Linked DNA regions of Homo sapiens: region 1 is linked to region 2. Evidence: fine-mapped expression QTL. A gene starts in region 2. The other region holds a variant in brackets. All regions are shown on one strand. Distances are between the middles of the regions. Region 1 holds the start of MUC16 (mucin 16, cell surface associated). Region 2 holds the start of ZNF558 (zinc finger protein 558).

What was found. PIP is the estimated chance that this variant, and not a neighbour inherited with it, causes the effect. A credible set is the group of variants that fine-mapping cannot tell apart.
Region 1: its variant is the best candidate, but not a certain one, in a credible set for the expression of ZNF558 in unexposed skin (GTEx, PIP 0.60).

What each region holds. Positions count from the first base shown.
Region 1 is chr19:9,061,305-9,073,823 of GRCh38, forward strand. MUC16 (mucin 16, cell surface associated) reads right to left here and starts at 4,447. Exons shown (of 94, transcript NM_001414686.1): 1 at 4,256-4,447. The coding sequence starts at 4,337. RefSeq lists enhancers at 8,070-9,004, 9,005-9,938. The variant T/TG (reference allele first, on the strand shown) is at 6,492.
Region 2 is chr19:8,825,272-8,837,790 of GRCh38, forward strand. It overlaps ZNF558 (zinc finger protein 558), which reads right to left and starts at 7,033. Exons shown (of 10, transcript NM_144693.3): 1 at 6,938-7,033; 2 at 6,047-6,130. MBD3L1 (methyl-CpG binding domain protein 3 like 1) reads left to right here and starts at 7,106. Exons shown (of 3, transcript NM_001393532.1): 1 at 7,106-7,251. RefSeq lists silencers at 6,813-7,082, 7,583-7,842.

The sequences.
Region 1 (12,519 bases), 240 kb after region 2:
GGTTTCGCCATGTTGGCCAGGCTGGTCTCGAACTCCCAACCTGAGTTGATCTGCCCGCCTCGGCCTCCCAAAGCGCTGGGATTACAGGTGTGAGCCACGGCGCCTGGCCTGTTGCTATAATTTTAGAGAAACACAGTGGGCTCTATCATTAGTCCTGGGTTCAAATCCTGTGTGGTCCTGGATAGGCCACTCAAATTCTGCCTGTTTCCTCTCTAGTAAATTAGGGTTACGTCTGACAGCATCTATTTTGGAGAGTCATTGCTAGGACTAATGGTGACAAAGAGCTTAATACAGATCCTAGCCCAGATCAAACAATTTTAGTTAATAGTAATAACCACCTTGCTTTTAGGATAGCTGAGACTCACTGGGCCAGCACCATGCCAAGCTCCTATCTTAGTAACAATGAAATGAGGCCTACCTTTACAATAAAAGCTAACATATCCTGTTGGCCATGTGGCAGGCACTGGGCTAATTCCTTTTTAGTTTTTTAAATTTTTTAGAGACAGGATCTGGCTCTGTCACCCAGGCTGGAGTGCAGTGGCATGATCTCAGCTCACTGCAACCTCTGCTTCCTGGGCTCAAGTCACCCTCCCACCGCAGCCTCCTGAGTAGCTGGGACTACAAGGGTGCACCACCACACCTGGCTAATTTTTGTATTTTTTGTAGAGACAGGGTTTCGCCATGTTGGCCAGGCTAGTCTTGAACTCTTGAGCTAAAGTGATCCGCCTGCCTTGGCCTCCCAAAGTGTGGAATTACAGGCGTGAGTCACCGTGCCTGGCTGTCTGCCTTTACTTTCTTTCTGTCCTTTTTTTTTTTTTTTTTTTTTTTGCTTTGAGACAGAGTCTCAATCTGTTGCCCAAGCTGGAGTGCAGCCGAACAATCATACCTCACTGTAGCCTCAACCTCCTGGACCCAAATGATCCTCCGACCTCAGCCTCCTGAGTAGCTGGGACTACAGGCACGTAACATCATGCCTGGCTAATTTTTATTTTATTTTTAGTAGAGAAGGTTTTGCTGTATTGCCCAGGCTGTTCTCAAACTACTGAGCTCAAGTGATCCTCCCATCTTGGCCTCCCAAAATGTTGGGACTGCAGGCCTGGCTAATTAAAAAAAAATTTTTTTGCAGAGATGGGGGTCTCACAATGTTGCCCAGGCTCGTCCTGAACTCCTGGGCTCAAGCAATTCTCCCACCTCGGCATCCCAAAGTACTGGGATTACAGGCAAGAGCCACTGCGCCTGGCCTCTCTTTGCATTTTTCTTTTCTTTTCTTCCTTTCTTTCCTCTCCCTCTCTCTCTCTCTCTCTCTCCCTTCTCTTTTTTGAGATCAAGTCTCACTCTGTTGCCCAGGCTGGAGTGCAGTGGCGTGATCTTGGCTCATTGCAACCTCCACCTCCCAGGTTCAAGCGATTATTGTGCCTCAGCAACCCAAGTAGCTGGGACTATAGGCGTGAGCCACCACACCTGGCTAATTTTTTTTTTTGTATTTTTAATACAGATGAGGTTTCACCATGTTGGCCAGGCTGGTCTCGAACTCCTGACCTCAGGTGATCTGCCCATCTCGGCCTCCCAAAGTGCCGGGATTACAGGCATAAGCCACCTAGCCCGGCCTGCATTTTTCAAGACTACAATAAACTGTCATTAACTATCGTCACCCTGCTATACAATAGATGTCTTGAATTTTTTCCTCCCATCTAACTGTAATTATGTATCTTTTTACCACCTCTCCTCATCCATCTTCCTCAACACCCTTCCCAGCCTCTGGTAACCACCATGGTAACCTGCAGACACCTTCATCTCCAACTTCCGGCCTGCAGAACGGAGAGATGATACATTTCTGTTGTTGAGGCCTCCAGTCTATGGTACTTGGTTATATCAGCCTCAGAAAACTAATGCAACCTCCAAATCCCTCATCGCTCCCTCTGAGTGTCTTGTCTACTTTTTCTCCAGTGTCCTGTAAGTCCTCAAAGCCTGCAGGGGCACATAGCAGGGGCTCAATGTACAAATGCCCATTCACTGACTACATGATCCTCCCAGGAGAGGTAGGAGAAACATGAGCCAGTTAAAGAAGAGAGACTGGGGTCGGGTGCGATGGCTCATGCCTGTAATCCCAGCACTTTGGGAAGATGAAGCAGGAGGATTGCTTGAGTCCAGGAGTTCAGGACCAGCTTGGGCAACATAGGGAGACCCTTTTTCTCTACTTTTATTTATTTTTATTTTTTATTTTTTTGGAGACGAAGTCTTGCTCCTGTCCCCCAGGCTGGGGTGCGATGGCATGATCTCGGCTCAATGCAACCTCCGCCTCCTGGGTTCAAGCGATTCTCTTGCCTCTGCTTCCTGAGTAGCTGGGATTACAGGCGCCTGCCACCACACCCAGCTAATTTTTGTATTTTTAGAGACGGGGTTTCACCATGTTGGCCAGGCTGGTCTCGAACTCCTGACCTCAGGTGATCCGCCCACCTCAGCCTTCCAAAGTGCTGGGATTACAGGCATGAGCCACCGCGCCCAGCCTCCTTTCTCTATTTTTATAAAAATTCTTGGGCTGGGCGCAGTGGCTCATGCCTGTAATCCCAGCATTTTGGGAGGCTGAGGTGGGCAGATCATGAGATCAGGAGATCAAGACCATCCTGGCTAACATGGTGAAACCCCGTCTCTACTAAAAAATACAAAAACAAATTAGCCGGGCATGACGGCGGGCGCCTGTAGTCCCAGCTACTTGGGAGGCTGAGGCAGGAGAATGGCGTGAACCCGGGAGGCAGAGCTTGCAGTGAGCCGAGTTCGAGCCACTGCACTCCACTCTGTCTCAAAAACAACCACCACCACCAAAAAAAAAAAAAAAAAAAATTCTTGGCCAGGTGTGGTGGCTTACGCCTGTAATCCCAACACTTTGGCAGGCTGAGGCAGGCGGATCACCTGAGATCAGGAGTTTGAAACCAGCCTGACCAACATAGTGAAAACCCATCTCTACTAAAAATACAAAATTAGCTGGGCGTGGTGGCACACGCCTGTAATCCCAGCTACTAGGGAAGCTGAGGCAGGAGAATTGCTTGAATCAGGAAGGCGGAGGTTACAGTGAGCCGAGATGGCACCATTGCACTCCCGCCTGGGCAACAAGAGCAAAACTCCGTCTCGAAAAAAAATAAATAAAATAAATAAAATAAAATAAGAATTATTAAAAAAAAAAAAGAGAGAGAGAGAAAGAGAGAAGAGATTGGGAACTGGCCCCACGTCTCCTGCTACAGGACCTTGGGAAAATCCTGAACCCTTTGAACCTCAGTTTGCTCCTCCATAAAACGGGGCCATCAGACCATCAGCCAATATCTCTAAGCTCCCCGTGGGATTGTGAATCCTACATGTCCCCCACCCCAGGCTTGCATGAAAAATAAGGTTTCTCTTGGGTGCCACACAGAGAGGATCCCTTCTGTGTCCCTCAAGCCATCTGTGACCGTCCCACTTCATAAAAGCAAAGGTCACTTGCTCATTGAAACTTCCTCTGTGCCAGGCAAGAGCTGCATCGCCCCAACAGGCCCCTCAAGCAAGATGCTATTATCATTATCATGATGCCCTTTTTGCAGATGGGGAAAAGTGAGGCTCAGAAAGACCAAGTCCGCAGGCCCCATCTCTACTGAAAATACAAAAACATTAGCGCCCGTAATCCCAGCTACTCCGGAGGCTGAGGCAGGAGAATTGCTGAGATCGCGCCATTGCACTCCAGCCTGGGCGACAAGACCAAAACTCTGTCTCAAAAAAAAAAAGAAAAAGAAAGTAAAGGGGGAGAAGGAAAGGAAGAGGGTGGTTGGGAACACAGAAGAGGTGACAATTGGGTAGGGACTCAAGCTGGAAAGGGGGACAAAGTGGAAGCTGGGTGCAGTGGCTCATGCCTGTAATCCCAGCACTTTGGGAGGCCAAGGCGGGAGGATCACTTGTGCCTGGGAGTTCTAGACCAACCTGGCCAACACAGGGAGACCTCGTCTCTGCAAAATATTTAAAAACAATTAGCTGAGCTAGGTGGCACACATCTGTGGTCCCAGCTACTTGGGAGGCTGAATTGGGAGAAGCACTTGAGTTTGGAGGTCTAGGCTGCTGTGAGCCGTGATCATGCCACCATACTCCAGCCTGGGCAACAGAGCAAGATCCTGTCAAAAAAAGGAAGGAAGGAGTGGGGTTGACATGCAAGGCCATTTGAGGATGGGCTGGGACATTGTGGACTCATTTCCCTCCTCCCCAGAGGACCAGAAGGAGCAAGAGATCCCCTTACCTGTGGGCAGCAGGTATCTCAGCATTAGTAACACCAGGGCCCACCGCCGGCCTCCAGGGGCACCCTGCCACAGGCCAGCCATTCACGGCTTCAGGAAGACTTGGGGGCTGCTCTTTGCCCTCGTTCCAGCCCCCCAGCCAAGCCCAGAGACATGTCCAGCAGCTCCAGGCGGCCAGGTGCCTAAGATCTGGCGGGTATCAAATGTGCCCAGTCAGCCTAATCCCTGCGAGGCTGGGCGGGGCTGGGAAGGATCCCCTCGCCTATTCCCAGGCCCTGATTGGCTCCCTGGGCCCTTGGTTCTGCCTGTCTGGGCTCCCAGGAAGACAGGGCTCCATGGGCATTGAGGGGAGCGGGAGTTTCAGCTGCCAGGCTCAGCTGCGGGTGTCAGGAAAAGTCTCCCTAGAATGTTCCCCAGACCCAGAGCTGCACTGCGACTTTCATGGGCCACAATCACTTTTGCAATTTACCCATTACTTTTTTTTTTTTTTTTGAAAGGAAGTCCTATTGTGTTGCCCAGGCTGGAATGCAGTGGTGCCATCTTGTCTCACAGCAAACTCCGCCTCCCGGTTCAAGCGATTCTTGTACCTCAGCCTCCCGAGTAGCTAGGACTACAGGCACACACCACCATGCCCAGCTAATTTTTGTATTTTTTAGTAGAGACAGGGTTTCACCATGTTGGTCAGGCTGGTCTCGAACTCCCTATCTCAAGTGATCCGCCAGCCTTGGCCTCACAAAGTGCTGAGATTACAGGCGTGAGCCACAGCGCCCAGCCTATACTTACATTCCTCCCTCCCCAGCTTTATTGAAGGATGATTGGCAAATAAAACATTAAATATCTTATAATTTGTAATAATTTTTGAGCAAAGAGGCTCCCATTTTCACTTTGCACTGGACCCTGCAAATCACGCCTCTGGTCCTGCTGCAAGCGGTAGTCTCTGCTATTCCACAGCAGCCTCATGTTCTCTCTCTGTGACGCTCTGAATTGTATCCCCCTCAAATTCACAAGTTGAAGCCTTTACTTCCGATGTGACTGCATTCAGCAACAGTTTTCAGGCTGGGCGCAGTGGCTCATGCCTGTAATCCCAGCACTTTGGGAGGCCGAGGAGGGTGGATCACCTGAGGTCGGGAGTTCGAGACCAACCTGACCAACATGGAGAAACCCCATCTCTACTAAAAATACAAAAATCAGCTGGGTGTGGTGGTGGGCACCTGTAATCCCAGCTACTCAGGAGGATTCAAGCGATTCTTCTGCCTCAGCCTCCCAAGTAGCTGGGATTACAGGTGCACGCCACTACACCTGGGTAATTTTTTTTTTTTTTAGATGGAGTCTTGCTCTGTCGCCAGGCTGGAGTGCACTGGTGCGATAGCTCACTGCAACCTCCACCTCCCAGGCTCAAGTGATCCTCCCACCTCAGTCTCCCGAGTAGCTGGGTTACAGGTGTGCACCACCACATCTGGCTAATTTTTGTATTTTTAGTAGAGACAGGGTTTCACCATGTTGCCCAGTCTGGTCTCGAACTCCTGAGCTCAAGCAATCCTCCCGACTCTACTTCCCAATGTGCTGGGATTATAGGCATGAGCCACTGCACTTGGTCATCTAAGTCTTATTGCTTATCTCCAGCACCTATCAACTTAGAATATGCTTGCTAAATGAATAAATATGTGAATTAAAGAATAAGTGGGCTGGGCATGGTGGCTCACACTTGTAATCCCAGCACTTTGGGAGGCTGGGTCAGGTGGATCATGAGGTCAGGAGTTCAAGACCAGCCTGACCAACATGGTGAAACCCTGTCTGTACTAAAAATACAAAAAATTAGCTGGGCGTGGTAGTGGGCACCTGTAATCCCAGCTACTTGGGAGGCTGTGGCAGAGAATTGCCTGCATCAGGGAGGTGGAGGTTGCAGTGAGCCGAGATCGTGCCACTGCATTCCAGCCTGGGAGACAGAGTGAGTCCGTCTCAAAAAAAAAAAAAAAATGAAAATAGAGTTGGCTTTGAGTGGAGAGAAATCAAGGAGGACCACCCAGAGGAGGTATTCAAAACCTTCCAGTTAAAATTTGCCCACCAGCTTTGCCATATAATGTGGAATCAGAGAGTGTGATGTCTCCAGCTTTGTTCATTTTGCTTGAGATGGCTTTGGCTATTTGGGGTCTCTATCAATGGATAAATGGATAAAGAAAATGTGTGTATATATATACACACACACACACACACACACACACACACACACACACACGA[T/TG]GAATACTATACAGCCTTAAAGAAGAAGGAAATACTGTCATTTTTGACCACACGGACGAACCTGGGGGACATTGTGCGAAGTGAAATAAGCCAGGCACAGTGAGACAAATACTGTGCGATTTCGCTTAACTGTGGTATCTGAAAAGATCAAATTGGTCGGGCGAGGTGGCTCACGCCTGTAATCCCAGCACTTCGCGAGGCCAAGGCGGGAGGATCACTTGAGGTCGGGAGTTTGAGACCAGCCTGGCCAACATGGCGAAACCCCGTCTCTATGAAAATTACAAAAAAAAAAAATTAGCTGGGTGTGTTATCGTACCTGTGATCCCAGTTACTTGGGAGGCTGAGGCATGAGAATTGCTTGAACTGGGAGACAGAGGTTGCAGTGAGCCATGATCACGCCACTGCACTCCAGCCTGGTGAGAGAGCAAGACTACATCTCAAAAATAAATAAGTAAAATAAAAAGGTTAAACTCATGGAATTAGAGAGTAGAATGATGGTTACCAGGGCTGGGGAAGTGGGAAGACTGAAGAGAGTTAGTTGGTCAAAGGACACATGTTTTAGTTAGCAGGAATAAGTTCTAGTGATCTATTGTAACTATAGGTCAAAATAATGTATTACATATTTCTTTTTTTTTTTTTTGAGACAGAGTCTCGCTCTGTCACCCAGGCTGAAGTGCAGTGGCCCGATCACAGTTCACTGAAACCTCCGCCTCGCAGGTTCAAGCGATTCTCCCGCCTCAGCCTGCTGAGTAGCTGGGATTACAGGTACACGCCACTACACCCAGCTAATTTTTGGATTTTTAGTAGAGACGGGGGTTTCACCATGTTGGTCAGGCTGGTCTTGAACTCCTGACCTCAGGTGATCCACCTGCCTCGGCCTCCCAAAGTGCTGGGATTACAGGTATGAGCCACCATGCCCGGCCCACATATTTGAAAATTGCTAAAAAGAGTTTATTTTACATAGCGACGTCGCTATTAAGAAAAAAAAAAGTTTATTTTAAATGCTCTTACCACACACACACACACACACACACACACACACACACACACACACGATAAGTAGGTGAGTTGATGGCTATGTTAATTAGCTTCTTAAATAATTCCACAAGATATACATACAAATATCAAAATATCAGATTGTACCCCATAAATAGATACAATTATTATTTGTCATTAAACTTTTTAAATAAAGAAAATTTAAAAATAAACAATTGTCCACCAGGTTCCTCTTTCTTTTTCTTTTCTTTTCCATTTTTTTTTTTTTTTTTTTTTTTTGAGACAGGGTCTCACTCTGTTCCTCAGGCTGGAGTGCAGTGGTGCAATCATAGCTCTCTGCAGCCTCAAACTCTTGGGCCCAAGCAATCCACCTGCCTCAGTCTCCTGAGTAACTGGGACTACAGGCATGTACCACCGTGCCCAGCTGATTTATACTTTTTTGTTTTGTAGAGACTGGGTCTGGATATGTTGCCCAGGGTTTTTGTTTTTTTTTATGTGGGGGTGGGTGGGTGGGGGGTGAGGACCGAGCCTTGCTCTGACACCCAGGTTTGAGTATAGTGGTGTGATCTTGGCTCACTGCAACCTCCGCCTCCCGGGTTCAAGTAATTTTCATGCCTAGCCTCCCAAGTAGCTGGGACTACAGGTGCTCGCCACCACACCTGGCTAATTTTTTTTTTTGTATTTCTAATAGAGACAAGGTTTCACCATGTTGGCCAGGCTGGTCTCAAACTCCTGAGTTCAGGTGATCTGCCTGCCTTAGCCTCCCAGAGTATTGGGATTACAGGTGTGAGTTCGGCTCCAGGCTGGATCTTGAATTCCTGGGCTCAAGCCATCCTTCTGCCTCAGCCTCCCAGAATGCTGGGATTACAAAGCTTGAGACAGCACCTTGGCCACCAGGCTCCTCTTTTCTTTTTTCTTTTTTTTTTTTTTTGAGACGGAGTCTCGCTGTGTCACCCAGGCTAGAGTGCAGTGGTGCGATCTCGGCTCACCGCAACCTCTGTCTCCTGGGTTCAAGCGATTCTCCTGCCTCAGCCACCTGAGTAGCTGGGACTATAGCCGCACACCACCAAGCCTGGCTAATTTTTGTATTGTTAGTAGAGACGGGGTTTCACCATGTTGGGCAGGCTGGTCTTGAACTCCTGACCTCGTGGTCTGCCCACCTTGGCCTCTCAAAGTGCTGGGATTACAGATGTGAGGCACTGCTCCTGGCCAGGTTCCTCTTTTCAAAGGCAGCTCCCGGGGGCACGGCTGACTTGTGTCTGGTAACTTTTTTTTTTTTTAAGGAAAACCATCTAGTTTTTTGGGAAAACCAGACTCAGAGCTCAGAGGATCTGAGCAGAGATTTAGGCTCCTGGGTCCTCCAGCTCCTTGAACCCACGGGGAATCCAGCAGCGGTTGCTCCCTTCCCCCCTAAGGAATGCAGGAACCCTGCCCAGAAGTGGCATTAGTAACTGAGCTCTCCCTTTGTCCCTAAGCTGCCATTCCATTGTCTTCCCCCAGTGATCACGGAAAAGGTCCTGGAGGGTGGAGGAGAGGTGCTCAGAATGGAGGAGGAGGAGGGGTGTTGGGACTGCTCAGCTCCTGCTGAAGTAAACACCTGCTCTGTGTTCCATAAGCTGGGACCCCAGGGTCAGGCCAAAGGGAAATGGATACCCCGGGTTTGGGTGGTCGCCACAAATTCTAATGCATGTACTACCTACATCATAGCCGCCCCCCCACCAAATAAGCCCAGTGATTAAGCGTACAGTTTCTGGAGCCTGGTGCCAGAGTTTGAAACCTCCTTTTTTTTTTTTTTTGGAGACAAGGTCTTACTCTGTCGCCCAGGCTGGAGTGCAGTGGCACGATCTCGGCTCACTGCAACCTCCACCTCCCAGGTTCAAGCGATTCTCCTGCCTCAGCCTCCCTAGTAGCTGGGATTACAGGCACCCCCCACTGTGCCCACCTAATTTTTGTATTTTTAGTAGAGACGGGGTTTTACCATGTTGGCCAGGCTGGTCTTGAACTTCTGACCTCAGGTGATCCACCCGCCTCAGCCTCCCAAAGTGCTAGGATTACAGGCTTCAACCACCACGCCCGGCCTAATTTTTTTTTTTTTTTTTTTTGAGACAGTTTCGCTCTTGTCACCCAGGTTAGACTGCAATGGCACAGTCTCGGCTCACCTCAAACTCCACCTCCCAGATTCAAGCGATTCTCCTGCCTCAGCCTCCGGAGTAGCTGGGATTACAGGCGTGCACCACGACGCCCAGATAATTTTTGTATTTTTAGTAGAGACGGGGTTTCACCATGTTGGTCAGACTGGTCTTGAACTCCCGACCTCAGGTGACCAGCCCTCCTTGGCCTCCCAAAGTGCTGGGATTACAGGCGTGAGCCACCACACCCGGCCCTCTTTAAAGTTCTAAAATGCTTCTAACCTTTAAGCTGTCCTTGTTCATTCCTGGGCTTAGGCCAAACTAACTTTGGGAAGGAATTCAGCTGATGGTTTGACTCTGAAACAAAACTGATAACAGCCCTTTCCCTAAAAGACCCACTTCTTGCCTGGGAACCAGTCTGCCTTTGCAGGACTAACAAATTAGCTACAAGATTAGAAATTACAGTTTAGGAGTCATGCAGCCTCTGGGTCCAAGAGTCTGAACGTCCCCAGATTGCTCCCAGAGGTAGCATCACTATTGTAAAACCTAAAATCAGTGCTTGAGATAGTTTGCAGACCCTGCACTCGATGGATCAGCTGACACCACCCAGACCATCAGACCAGACCAGTCAAGATCGCACCATTGCACTCCAGCCTGGGCAACAAGAGTGAAACCCCATCTCAGAAAAAAAAAAAAAAAAAAAAAAAAAAAAAAAGAAGGAAAAGAAAGAAACTCTACACTTCCTGTCCTTATTCCTGGGAATTTATTTAACAATTTAATTTCTCACCATACCCGAGGGAAGGCACAGCCTATTGCAAAGTCATTTTGCACGAAAGCAAACTGGGGCTCAGAGAACCAGGCCTCCAGTCAGTGCTGGTGTCATGGACAACCAGGCTGAGGGCCCATGGCAGAACCTGTTTTATGACATGGCTGCTCTCCCTGAAGCCAGTGAGGCACAAAGCCTAGGGGAGTGGACAAGGGACAGGAAGGTGTGGGTTTCCATCCTGCTGTGTGACCTTGGGGAAGTCACCTAACCTCTCTGAGCCTCATTTTTCTTTCTTTTTTCTTATTTATTTATTTTGAGACAGAGTCTCGCTCTGTCGCCCAGGCCAGAGTGCAGTGGCGCAATCTCAGCTCACTGCAAGCTCCGTCTCCCAGGTTCAAGTGATTCTCCTGCCTCAGCCTCCCGAGTAGCTGGGATTACAAGCGCGTGCCACCACGCCTGGCTAATTTTTGTATTTTTAATACAGATGGGGTTTCTCCATATTGGTCAGGATGGTCTCGAACTCCTGACCTCGTGATTTGCCCACCTCAGCTTCCCAAAGTGCTGGGATTACAGGCATGAGCCACCGTGCCCAGCCTTCTTGTTTTTAGTTTTTTTTTTTTTAATGAAAAAAAAAGTATTATTATGGCCGGGCACGGTGGCTCACGCCCGTAATCCCAGCACTTTGGGAGGCCAAGGTGGGTGGATCACCTGAGGTTAGGAGTTGGAGACCAGCCTGACCAACATGGCAAAACCTCATCTCTACTATAAATACAAAAATTAGCTGGGCATGGTGTCGCATGTGTGTAATCCCACCTACTTGGGAGGCTGAGGCAGGAGAATCGCTTGAACCCGGGAGGCAGAGGTTGCAGTGAGCTGAGATTGTGCCACTGCACCCCAGCCTGGGCAACAGAGAGAGACTCTGTCTCAAAAACAAAACAAAACAAAACAAAAACCAGAAGAGATGTGTGGTGCATGTAAAATACACATGAGATGAGATTTTGAAGACTGATTTTGAAAAAAAGAATGTAAAATGTCTTGGCCATAACTTTCATCAGAATTACTTGATTTGTATTTAAATATCATGGCATTTAGTTTATGGGGGATTTTTTTGTTTTAATTTATCTTTTTTCTTTTTTTCCAGCAAATGCTTAACATCCAAAGTTTATGGTTATATGTTTGAGATGGGATCTCATTCTGTCGCCCAGGCTGGGGTGCAGTGGCTCACTGCAGCCTCTACCTCCTGGGTTCAAGCCATCCTCCCACCTCAGCCTCCCAAGTAGCTGGGACTATATAGGTATGTGCCATCACGTTTGACTAATTTTTAAATTTTTTTGTAGAAGCCGGGTGCAGTGGCAAATGCCTGTAATCCCAGCACTTTGGGAGGCCGAGGCGGGCGGATCACCTGAGGTCAGGAGTTTGAGACCAGCCTGGCCGACATGGTGAAACTCCGTCTCTACCAAAAATACAAAATTAGCTGGGGGTGGTGGCGCGCGCCTGTAATCCCAGCTACTTGGGAGGCTGAGACAGGAAAATCTCTTGAACCTGGGAGACAGAGATTGCAATGAGCCAAGATTGTGCCACTGCACTCCAGCCTGGACGACAAAGTGAGACTCTGTCTAAAAAAAAAAAAAAAAAAAAGTTTTCTGTAGACACCGAATCTCACTATATATGTTCCCCAGGATGAACTTGAAGTCCTGGGCTCAAGTGATCCTCCCATCTCAGCCTCCCAAAGTGCTGGGATTACAGGTGTGAGCCACCGCGCCCGACCCATAGATGCTTGTTAAGGGAAAATCCCAGCACTTTAGGAGGCCAAGGAGGGTGGATCACCTGAAGTCAGGAGTTCGAGACCAGCCTGGCCAATATGGTGAAACCCCATCTCTACAAAAAATACAAAAATTAGCTGGGCTTTTTGGCTGGTGCTTGCAATCCTTGAGAGGCTGAGGCAGGAGAATCACTTGCCTGTAGTCTTAGCTACTTGGGAGGCTGAGGTGGGAGGATTTGCTTGAACCCAGGAGTTCAAGGCTGCAGTCAGCTATGATAGCGCCACTGTACTTCAACCTGGGCAACAGAGGGAGACCTGGTCCCTTAAAAAAAAAAAGACATTTCTCAAGAGGGCCTTCTACCTTCCTTCCTTCCC
Region 2 (12,519 bases):
CACAAGTGACCATCAGTAGGGGATTGGGTGAATAAACTATGTGATAGCTTTAAGGTTGGTGCAAAAGTGATTGCGGTTTTTGCCATTACTTTCGATGGCAAAACCTGCAATTACTTTTGCAGCAACTTAATAAATAACAAAGAAACATGTAGCCAGGAAAAAAAAACCCCAAACCAAAACCAAAACAAAGAACCCCTGAAAAGATTTCTAGGTATTCAGAGAGATTATCTCCAATAAATTTAAGTGAAAAAAAAATCAAGGTACAAAGCAATGTCATGTGTCCTTTTTATAAGACGAGAAAGCCTCCTTTCTCCAGATTTATAGAATAAAACGTAACTCCATAAAGCCAGCTTCTGGAGGTTTCCATGTGTGACCTCCATGACATGAACCCAAAAGATAAAAGGAGTGAAGGGTGTGAATGGGCAGGGATGGGGGCACTGGACATTCAGGGTGAGTTCGGGTTCCGTCAAAAAATCAAGTTGGAGGGAGTCTTTGGCTCTTGGGCCTCTGTGGTAGACAGATGATTAACTTCCTGCTCTCCCAAGAAAGGGGTCTGTGTTCTAATCCCCAGAACCTCTGGATCTACTCCCTTACATGGCAAAAGGGATTCTGCAGCTGTGAGGAAGGCAAGGATCCTGACATGGGGGATGATGCTGGGTGGGCCCACTGTGATTACAGGGGTCCTTATAAAAGGGAAACAGGAGGGTCAGTTCAAAGAAGGATGGGATGAGATGAGAGAAGAAGGGAGCGTGTGTGTAGCAGGGAGGAGATAACATACAGAGAGACTGGAAGATGCTGCCCTGCTGGTGTTGATGATGGAGGAACAAGCCACAGTCAGGGAAGGCTGGTGGCCTCTACAAGATGAAAAACGCAGGAAATGGGTTCTCCCCTAGAGCCTCTAGAGCAGTGGTCCCCAACCTTTCTGGTACCAGGGACTGGTTTCGTGGAAGACAATTTTTCCATGGAGCACGGGGCGGCAGTGGGGCTGGGCAGGGAATGGTTTCAGGATGATGTTTTATAAGCACATTACATTTATTCTGCACTTTATTTCTATTATATTACACAGTAATATATAATGAAATAATTATACGACTCACCATAATATAGAGTCAGTGGGAGCCCTGAGCTTGTTTTCCTGCAACTAGATGGTCCCATCTGGGGGTGATGGGAGACAGCAACAGATCATCAGGAATTAGATTCTCCTAAGGAGTGTGCAATCCAGATCCCTCACATGCAAAGTTCACAATAGGGTTTGGGCTCCTATGAGAATCGAATGCTGCCACTGATCGGCCAGGAGGTGGAGCTCAGGTGGTAATGCGAGCAATGAGGAGTGGCTGTAAATACAGATGAAGCTTCGCTCACCTGCCACTCACATCTTGCTGTGCAGCCCTGTTTATAAGCACTGGTCCGTGGCCCAGGGGCTGGGGACTCCTGCTCTAGAGGGAATGCAGGCCTTCCAGCTTATTGAGGATTTCTGACCTCCAGCAAGGCAAGAGGATAAATGTGTGTTGTTTTAAGTCCCTGAATTTGTGGTAGTTTGTTATAGCATCAATAGGAAACTAACATGCCTTTCACATCACACCTTCCCTTTGGGTGAGTTCAGCAGACCCAGGCAACTGCTGCAGAACTTCCCTACCCTCTACAGGGGGAAGTATCTCCTTTTTCCCCGTAACAGACCTAATGTGCAGGTAGGCACACAGTAGTTCCAGTCACTGAGCTGGGGAGTGAGGGGGGGTTGGCCTCCAGCCAGCTCACTGGGCCTCCAAGAAAAAAACAAGTAGAGAAGGTACCTGGGACATTTTCAGGCCCCAAGTCCCTATTCAAGGCTGTCTGGAAGCAGAAATTTCCCACTAGGACAGGAGGGGTCTCTTCAGTTTACAGATCCTGTGACACCTGCCCTGCCCTGGATACAGTGCTGGAGGATGGTCACAGCAGATGGGCCACTCTATGTCAGCTGCCCAACACAACTTCTGGTGATGATGGAAATGTTCTATAATTCTGCTCTAATACTTGAAATGTGACTAGTATGGCTGAGAAAATAAATTTTATTTTTTTTGGGAGCAATCATCTGATTCCTAAACTACCTCCAAACACCCCCTCTTTTGCCTCTTAAATGTCTTCCTTCTGAATCCTGAAGTCCTTGTTATCTGCATGCTTACACTACATGCAAATTGCATCACCCTCTGGCCCACAACTCTTTAGTGTCTTCCCACTGGCCTGAGAACAGAGTCTGAAGTGAGGCCTAGTATGGTTCTGCCTCCCTCTTGATCTTGGTCTTGGTCACACTTCTTTCCCTATTCTTTTTTTTTTTTTTTTTTTTTTTTGAGGAGTCTCACTCTTACACCCAGGCTGAATGCAGTGGTGCAATCTCTGCTCACTGCAACCTCAGCCTCCCAGGTTCAAGCAATTCTCTTGTCTCAGCCTCCCGAGCAGCTGGGACTACAGGTGTGCACCACCACACCCAGCTAATTTTCGTATTTTTAGTAGAGACGGGGTTTCACCATGTTGGCCAGGCTGGTCTTGAACTTCTGACATCAGGTGATCAGCCCACCTTGGTCTCCTAAAGTGCTGGGATTACAGGTGTGAGCCACTGCGCCCAGCTTCTTTCCCTGTTCTTGTCTCGGCTTCAGCCATCCCTGTGTTCCCAGTGCAGGGAGCGTGGCAGCCTCTCTCCTGCTGCAGGGCCTTTCCTTACACAGCTTCTTCGACGGCAGTGCTCTCTTGGACATAACCCTGTCCCCTCACTCTAGTCGAGCCCTATGACTAGCTACATCTGACCCCAACTTGGAGATGGAGCAGCAATTCCCTTTTTCAGGGGCCTGTGAACCCCAAGTGGGAAAATAAAGGAAAATCCTGAAGTTCCTTTAAGGGAAATTCCGAGCATCCAGCTAGCCCCAAAAGTAAATATGGAACTTGTTAAACAGGAAGGTAATAGTAACCTAAAACAACAGCCAAAGAAGTTAAGGCTCCAGAGATGTTCGCTTTCCCCATGGAAACTAAAGATAACATCTTAACATGCGTCCCTGAGTTGCCTTTCAGAGGCTGGGACTCCCACTGAGGACCCCACCAAATGGAGCTGCTGGCTCAGAGACCCCAGATAAGCGGGACATGAAGGCTGAGCTTCAGCGTTCTTTGTGCTAAGTTTCTTCTTGAGGGGCTTGGAGAAAGTCACTTCTCCCAGCCAGTTAACATTTTCCTACTGACTCTAAATTTTTAAACAAAGCTTCTTTTCTTTAACCAATTACAAATCAGAAAAATCTTTGAATCTACCTATGACAAGCTCCTGCTTCAAGACATCCTTGCCCTTTTAAGTCTAAACCAGTGTGTAACCTCCATGTATTGCTTTATGATTTTGCCTGTAGCTTCTGCTTTTCTGTAACTTACCATTGCCTTCAGAAATCCTTGCCTAGCCGGGCACGGTGGCTCATGTCTGTAATCCCAGCACTTTGGGAGGCCTAGGCAGGCGGATCACCTGAGGTCAGGAGTTTGAGGCCAACCTGGCTAACATGGTGAAACTCTGTCTCTACTCAAAATACAAAAAATTTGCCAGGTGTGGTGGTATGTGCCTGTAATCCTAGGGACTGGGGAGGCTGAGGCAGGAAAATCACTTGAACCTGGGAGGCAGACGTTGCAGTGAGCTGAGATCGTGCCATTGCACTCCAGCCTGGGTGACCAAGTGAGATTCTGTCTCATTAAAAAAAAAAAAAAGGCCGGGTGTGGTGGCTCATGCCTGTATCATCTCAGCACTTTGGGAGGCTGAGGCGGGTGGATCACGAAGTCAGGAGATTAAGACCAGCCGGGCCAACATGGTGAAACCCCGTCTCTACTGAAAATACAAAAATTAACCGGGCATGGTGGTAGGCGCCTGTAATCCCAGCTACTCAGGAGGCTGCGGCAGAACTGCTTGAACCCGGGAGGCCGGGGGTTGCAGTGAGCTGAGATTGCAACACAGTACTCCAGCCTGGGTAACAGAGTGAGACTCCATCTCAAAAAAAAAAAAATTCCTTGCCTAAAAGCCACTGGGGAGGCCAGGATTTGAACATTTAATGTCTGGTCCTCCTTGCTTAGTGCTGTGCAATAAAAGCCTTTCTATCTATCGTAGCAACCCTCAATATAGACATCTGGTTTCACTGCACCACCAGGTGAGCAGACCCCAGTTTGGTTCTGTAACAACTTAAGCTCTCAAGCTAAATATCCTTCCCAAGAAAGCTTCCCTGTTCCCTCTGATCAAGTTCACTAGTGCCAAGCTCCCACATCACTCCTGTCATTCATGGTTTAAAATTTATCTTCCCTGTTAGAAGGTAAACTTTATGTAGGACAGGGGCCATTTCAGGTCCTCCAGGGTCCCTGTGCATCTGACCTAGGACCTGACTCATGGAGGCGACCTGGTTTGCCAAGGATTGTCCCGGTTTGAACACTGGATGCCCTGTGCCCTAGCAAACCCCTTGGTCCTGAAAAAATGAGGATGGTTGGTCACCATTAACTGTGCACTCAAATAATATCTATTGCATGATAAGTAAACATTCCTTCAAGAATGCTGTAGGAAAGCTAGAATGGAAAAGGTGAACACACACACAATTAGTAGAAACCCCACAATTTAATACTAGATTACTTAACATGATTCTCTGCAATATGAATCACCATACTGTTATTTCAGAGAAGTTTTAAGAAACAAAGTTAATTCCTATTAGGAGGTGATATCGTTGGCTCTGTGTCCCCCCACCCAAATCTCATCTCGAGTTGTAATAATCCCTATGTGTCAGAGGAGGGTCCTGGTAGGAGGTGACTGAATCATGGGGGCGGACTTCCCCCTTGCTGTTCTCCTGATAGTAAGTTCCCACAAGATCTGATGGTTTAGAAGTTTGGCGTTTATGTCTTCTCTCTCTCTCCTGCTGCCATGTAAGACGTGCCTTGCTTTCCCTTTGCTTTCTGCCATGATCGTAAGTTTCCTGAGGCCTCCCCCGCCATGCAGAACTGAGTCAATTAAACTTCTTTCCTTTGTAAGTCACTCAGTCTCAGGGAGTTATTTATAGCAGTGTGAAAACTCTCAGGTAGTTCTTTATAGCAGTGTGAAAAAGGACTAATACAGGAGGCAAGGTGCAGAGGACAATCTTTTTGGAAACCAGTTCCCTACCCTTCAATCTATAAGTTGTTGCTTAATATTCTTCCAAATGTTTTCAAATCTCATTAGGAAAAAAAAAATCCCATTACTCAAAACACATCTGGTCGCCGGTCAATTTAATTTTAAATTTGTTACTAATAAATCATCCTTTTTACAAATGCCCTTATATTTTGAAGTTTGGTGGAGGGCCAATATGCCTTTAGAAATCAAATCAACAGCTGGGTGCGGTGGCTCTTGCCTGTAATCCCAGCACTTTGGGAGGCTGAGGTGGGCGGACCACTTGAGGTCAGGAGTTAAAGACCAGCCTGGCCAACATGGCAAAAACCTGTCTCTACTAAAAATACAAACAAAATTAGCTGGGCGTGGTGGCACTTGCCTGTAGTCCCAGCTACTCAGGAAACTGAGGCAGGAGATTTGCTTGAGTCTGGGAGGTGGAGGTTGACATGAGCCAAGATCGCGCCACTGCACTCCAACCTGGCCAACAGAGTGAGACTTGGTCTCAAGAAAAAAAAAAAAAGTCAAATCAAACAGGCCTGAAAAATGTTGCTAAGTAGTCCTGCTAGTTGTTAGTGGGAAGACTTGTAACACTACATATACATGTAAATATTTTCTATACTTATATAAAATTCAGAAACTTTTAGCATTACGGCATACCAGAAAATCTGTCTTTAGCTACAGTTACACATCTTTACGTTATTTGTATGTTTGTTTTGTGGATACTTATTTGCATGTAACTGTATTTACTTATTTACACACATGTAACCATAAACACCTCTGTCTTTTTACCTTGAACTTTCCTTAAGATACCTTCACTCTTAGTGACTTCAATGTGGTTACAACCCCAGCACAGGAAAAGCCCACGAGGAGTTCTTCTACACAGCAGAGCCTGCTGAAACCTTGTTGTAGGTTCCACACTGTACTCACCTGGTCACCCAAAAACCCACAACAACAGGTGGACCTTGTGGCAGGCTTCAACACGAATCTGAGCTTGAATGATGCTTTTCTCATCTGAAAAAAAAAAAAAGACACAAAGATTTCTTTCGAGGCTTTGTATAGGTTGTACAGTTGTTGGATACGGCTGCCGGAAACACCATCCCATTCACTTTTTTTGGGTACTCAATGATTAAATGTGTAATAAGGGCCCAGCCTGTGGGCCATGACTGGCTTTACCTGATTCCCATCTGGCCATCTGCTCCGTAAGAGGGGAGAAAGCAGCTTAACGCTGTGTGCATTTGACTTGCTCAACTTACTACGCTGGAGAGAGATTCTATGGTGACTCCACAGGCTTTAAAAATATCTTGTCACTTAGAGGCCCTATTAAGTGACTAAACTGAATTTTTAACAATTTATGTAGTTTATTCAGAACTGCAGAGATTTTTTTTTTAAGGCCCTAGAGCAGGGTTTCCCAACCTGGCACTACTGATAATTCTTTGTTGTGGGGGACTGTCCTGTACAACGTAGGATCTTTAAGAGCAAGCAGCGTCCCTCTTCCCCGGCCTCCACCCTCTAGGTGACAGTAGCAGCCTCCCCTCCCCACAATTTGTGAAAACCACAGTCGTCTCCAGCTACAGCCAAAAGTCCCCTGGGGTGCGGAATCGCCCCGGGTGAGGGCGACTGGGGTTCCCTGAGGAGGCAACAGCGGCGCGGGGCCCCGACCCAGGAGCAAGCAGCAGCTTCGTGCTGACCTAAGCTCACAGCCCGAGGCCTCATGAACCGAAACACGGCTCCCTGGAGGGACGCAGGGCCCGTGGCTGGCGGTGTCCGCGGCCCACGTCGCCCCCTGGACTCGGACCCGAGCCCCCGCCAGTCGCTCACCGAGCCCGGCCCCTCCCGCGGGGCCAAAAGCGCCGACTCGCGGGGACGGAGGGACTCGCTCCCCGCTGCCCCACGCGCGGCCCCTCCCACGGTACCGCCCCGCGCTTCCGCTTCCGGTCTGGGGAGAGGTGCGCTGCACGTCCCCTTCCGGCTCGCGCGGGCAGCCTCGCAGAGTCGAGCGTGTTGGGGGTTCGGCGCTTAGGCGACAGGCGCGGCGGGCGGGAGCGGCGGCCGCGAACCCCAGCCTTGGGCAGAGGTGTTCTAGTTTGCTTAGTGGGCACAAAGTTGGGCCCTGGCCTGGGGCAGTAGCGGGGGTAAGGTTGGCCCTGGGGGCGGGGCCAGGCTGTGAGCCGCACGAGGCCTGGGGGCGGGGCTGGTTGTGGGCGGAGATCAGTTCCGGGGCGGGGCTGAAGGCGGGGAACCGGCTGAGGCCGTACCAGGCCTGGAGGGCGAGGCTGATTGGGCAGAGACCAGTTCCAGGGTCGGGGCTGTGGGTGGGGCCCAGTTCTCGGGGCGGATGGTATAAGGCTTCTAGAGCGGGGATGACTGAGCAGAGACCAGTTACAGGGGTGGAGACCTCCATTTCCGGGGCGGGGCTGAGCGGGAACCAGGCTGTGGTTGTGACAGCCCTGGAGGTTGGGGCTGGCTGTGGGCGGAGATAAGCTCCGGGCCGGGCGGAGGGCGGGGACTAGGCTGTGGGTGTACCGGTCTTGGAGGGCAGTGGTGATTGGCAGAGAGCAGTTCTAGGGGCGGAGCTATGGGGTGGCAGCAAGCCTGGGGGCGGGGCTGACTGTGGGCGGAGACCAGTTCTGGGGGCGGGACTGTGGGCTGCACCAGGCCTGGGGAGGGGGCAGTGGGTGGAGACCAGTTCCAGGGGCAGGGATCTGGGTATGAATAAAAGGGTGTATGATGTGGGTGGGTTGGGATAGGCCCAGGAGCCAGGATTGTGGGAGATCAGATTCAGGGGTAGGGCCTTCCTTGGATCCCTAGATTGTTGATACAGTTACTGCCCCATGTTCATACAACCCAATAGGATCAGATTATGTATGCACATTTGTCTATAACTTGCTTTCCCAAGGCAGAACATAGTGATTTAACACTAAGAGTTTAGGGGAGCAGGAGAGGACTGGGTCATAGATACACATATAGGAAAACTTAAGAATGGTACAAAGTCAGTCAAATATTCTCCCACCACGGTCTTTCAGTTCTTTTGCTCAGAGGCAAAAATAATTTTCTCCTCTATCTTTCCAGATATAGTGTGGACATGTATGTGTGTGTATGTGTGTATGCCGTAGTCATATTCATGGAATAAATGCTATTACCTCCCCCCCAACAAGTCTCTGTTTTATACACCATGGATATAGACTGAACAAAATAGGTAAACGTCCTTGCCCTCAGAGAACGTGCATTTTAGTTGTGAGTTGGGCAGGAGAAATGGACAGTGAATGTGATAAATAGAATACATGGTGGGTTGGTGCGTTAGATACCACTAAGTGCTGGTTGGACCTGGTGGCTTACGCTTGTAATCCCAACACTTTGGGAGGCCGAGGCAGGCAGATCACCTGAGGTCAGGAGTTCGAGACCAGCCTGCCAACATGGTGAAACCCCGTCTCTACTAAAAATACAAAATTAGCCGGGCGTGGTGGCGGATGCCTTGTAATCCCAGGTACTTGGGAGGCTGAGGCAGGAGAATAGCTTGAACTCGGGAGGTGGAGGTTGAAGTGAGCCGAGATTGCAGCCGGTGCACTCCAGCCCGGGTGACGAGCAAGACTCCATCTCAAAAAACAAAACAAAACAAAAACCAAAAACCATAAACAAAAAAAGATACTGGTAAGTGCAAAGGGAAAAAATTTTATGTAAGAGAGTGGTAACATTTAAAATCAGCCAGGAAGAAATACTTTCAATGAATGATATTGTTTCATGCACCCGTCCTTTCAGAAAAAAATAGTTAGATCTCTGCTTCCCAAAAATATCCATTTTCAGGTGGCTGAAGGAAGTTTAAGCAAAAATGAACAAGTTCAAAATTCAATATACTAGGAAAGTTCACTGTGGAAAGACTGTTCTCTTCAACAAATTGTGCTGGGACAACTAGATGCCAATATACAAAAGAATGAAATTGGGCTGGGCGTGGTGGCTCACGCCTGTAACCCCAGCACTTTGGGAGGCTGAGGCAGGCAGATCACGAGGTCAAGATATCGAGACCATCCTGGCTAACATGGTGAAACCCCGTCTCTACTAAAAATACCAAAATTAGCTGGGCGTGGTGGCGGGCGCCTATAGTCCCAGCTACTCGGGAGACTGAGGCAGAAGAATCGTTTGAACCCAGGAGGTGGAGATTGCAGTGAGCCGAGATCACCCCACTGCACTCCAGCCTGAGAACAGAGCGAGACTCCATCAAAAAAAAAAAACAAACCAAAACCAAAAAAAAACAAAAAAAAAACCAACCAACCAAGAAACAAACAAAAAACAGAGAATGAAATTGGACCTCTACTTCACACCATGTACAAAAGTGAGCTCAAAATAGATCATAGACCTAAAGGTAAGAGCTAAAACTATAAACTTCTTGGAAGAAAACATAGGTGTCAAACTTTGTGATCTTGGGTTAGGCAATTGTTTCTTAGATATGACATCAAAAACAGGTGGCGAAAGAAAAAATATATAAATTGGACTTAACATTAAAAAACATTGATGCTTCAAAGGACACCATCAAGAAAAAAGACAAACATGGACTGGGTGAAGACATTTACAAATGATTTATCTGATACATGACTTGTATTCAAAATATATAAAGGCTTGCGACTCAGCAATAAAAAGATACCCAATTAAAAGTGAACAAAGAGTTTTTTTTTTTTTTTCTTTTTGAGGTGGAGTCTCCTTCTGTCACCTAGGCTGGAGTGCTGTGGCACCATTTTGGCTCACTGCATCCTCTGCCTCCTGGATTCAAGCGATTCTCCTGCCTCAGCCTCCCAAGTAGCTGGGACCACAGGCGTTCACCACCACGCCTGGCTAATTTTTGTATTTTTAGCAGAGAGAGGGTTTTGCCATGTTGGCCAGGCTGGTCTTGAACTCCTGACCTCAAGTGATCTGCCCACCTTGGCCTCCCTAAGTGCTGGGATTACAGGTGTGAGCCACTGCACCCAGCCTGAAAAATGAACAAAGAGTTCGAATCGTCATTTCTACAAAGAAGATACACAAATGGCAAATATATACATGAAAAGATGCTCGGCCCCATTAATCATTAGGGAAGTTAATATCAAAACTTCAATAAAATACTACTTCACACCCATTGGGATAATTAAAATTAAAAAGATAGCCAATAACAAAGATTGGCAAAGACAAGGAGAAATTGGAATTCTTATACATTGCTGTCAGGATTGTAAAATGGTGCACCCACTTTGCAAAATAGTTTGGCAGTTCCTCAAAAAGTCATAGAGTTGCCACGTGACCCAGCAATTTTATTTCCAGTATATGCCCAAGAGAAATGAAAACATGTGTTCACATGACAGCTTGTACATGAATGTTCATAGCAGCATTATACATAATAGCCCAAAATTTTGTATGTCCCAAATATCAGTCAACTGATGAATGGATAAATAAAATGTGGTATATCCACACAACGGATTATTATTCATCCATTAAACAGAATACATATTCCATGGATGAACCTTGAAAACATTACGGTAAGTAAAAGAAGCCACTCATAAAAAACCCACATTTTGTATAATTCAATTTAAATAAAATTTCCAGAATAAGAAAATCCAAAGAGACAATAGATTAGTGGCAAATGTTGGGGAAAAGGGAAATGAGGGGAAGTGGGTAATGGTATGGATTTCATTTTAGATGAAAATAAGATTAGATAGTGGTGACGATTGCGCAACTGTGTGAATGTACTAAAAACCATTTTACACAAAAGTGTAAAAACTGTACACTTTAAAAGGTTGAATATTATGGTAGCTCAATAAAGTTTTTATTTAAAAAATGTAGAATTATACACATAAATTCTTCAGTTAGGCATAATAAGAGAATAAAAGTGGAAAAATAAAATACTACATAAATATGAGTGCTTCTTCCTCAAAATAATAGAAGAAAAGTGGAAAAAGTAAAATACTACAAAAATGTGAGTTCTTCTCTTCTTCCTCTTCCTCCTCCTCCTTTCTTCCTTCTTCCTTACTCCTCCCCTTCCTCCTCCTCCTTGTCCTCCTCCTTCTTCTTTCTTCTTTCCTCCTCCTCCTTCTTCTCTTCCTTTTCCTCCTCCTCCCCCCCTCTCCTCCTCCTTCTTTCTTCTTTTTTCTTTTTTTTTGGAGACAGGATCTTGCTTTGTCACCCAGGCTGGAGTGCAGTGGTGCAAACATGGCTCATTGCAGCCTCGACCTCCTGGGCTCAAGTCATTCTCCCTCCTCAGCTTCCCGAGTAGCTGGGACTGCAGGCGTGCACCACCACGCCCAGCTAGTTTTTGTATTTTTTATAGAGACAGGGACTCGCCACACCACAGAGGCTAGTCTCGAACTCCTGAGCGCAAGCAATCCCTTTGCCTTGGCTGCCCAAAGTGCTGGGATTTTAGGCATGACCCCATCGTATCCAGCTTAAGTGTATCTTAATTTTCCACACCATCACATTATTAAATGGCAAAACAAACTGGGGATAAATAATTGTAAAAATCTATGACATGTGGGCTCATATCATTATTACATAAAGAATATTTTGGATAAATAAGCAAAAGATGAACAAGCCAGTAAAAACATCATCAAAGACAAAGGCTATGAACCACACACTCCTTTACAAATACATACAACTGCCCAATACTCTAATTAGCAAAGAGGCATAAATTAAAATAATGGCATTATGTTTGTGCCTCTCAAGTAATGCAAAACATTTTAAATGGCCAGTTTGTCAAGACATGAAGAAATGAATGACCTCGCCCTCTGCTAGCAGCATTGATAAGTACCAGTTTCTCAGCAGGTACTTGGTAACATATACCCAAAGCTGTACGAATGTGCATATTTATCAACCCAGCAATTTTACAGTGATCTAAATCAGAGAAATGTTTGAACCTTGTTAAAAAGGATTGATCATCTACCTCCTATTTAATATGACAGAAGATTAGTAACAATGGCAAAATAAGTACTGGTGTAGCCGTATGAAATGACATTCATGGGCCTTAAAACAACAATGTCAATGTACATTTAGTTATATTAAATTACAATCGGGATATATTGTTAGATGTGAGAAGCTGGCTGCAGAATGAAGTCGGCAGTGTGTATCCATGTTGTAACCCACAAAGTCTAGGAATATAAAATTCCAGGGCTCGACAACCACTTAATGCCTGGACCCTTTCTGCCTCGAATGGGGGTGGCTAGAAACTTCTCTGGCTGGAGGGCAGAAGGCAGAGTGCAAAGTTTTGCCTCAAGCCTTGTGACAGGGATAAAGACCCTCACCCTTCACACTGGCCTCATGGACAAGACAAGTTCTTGCTTTCCCACAGAGTACCTGAGATCTGAGGATACTTTATACTCTGATAGTCACTTCCGGCTACCTTAATTCTGCTAGAGTAAAAACAACTAGTAGCTTCCACCTAACCAGAT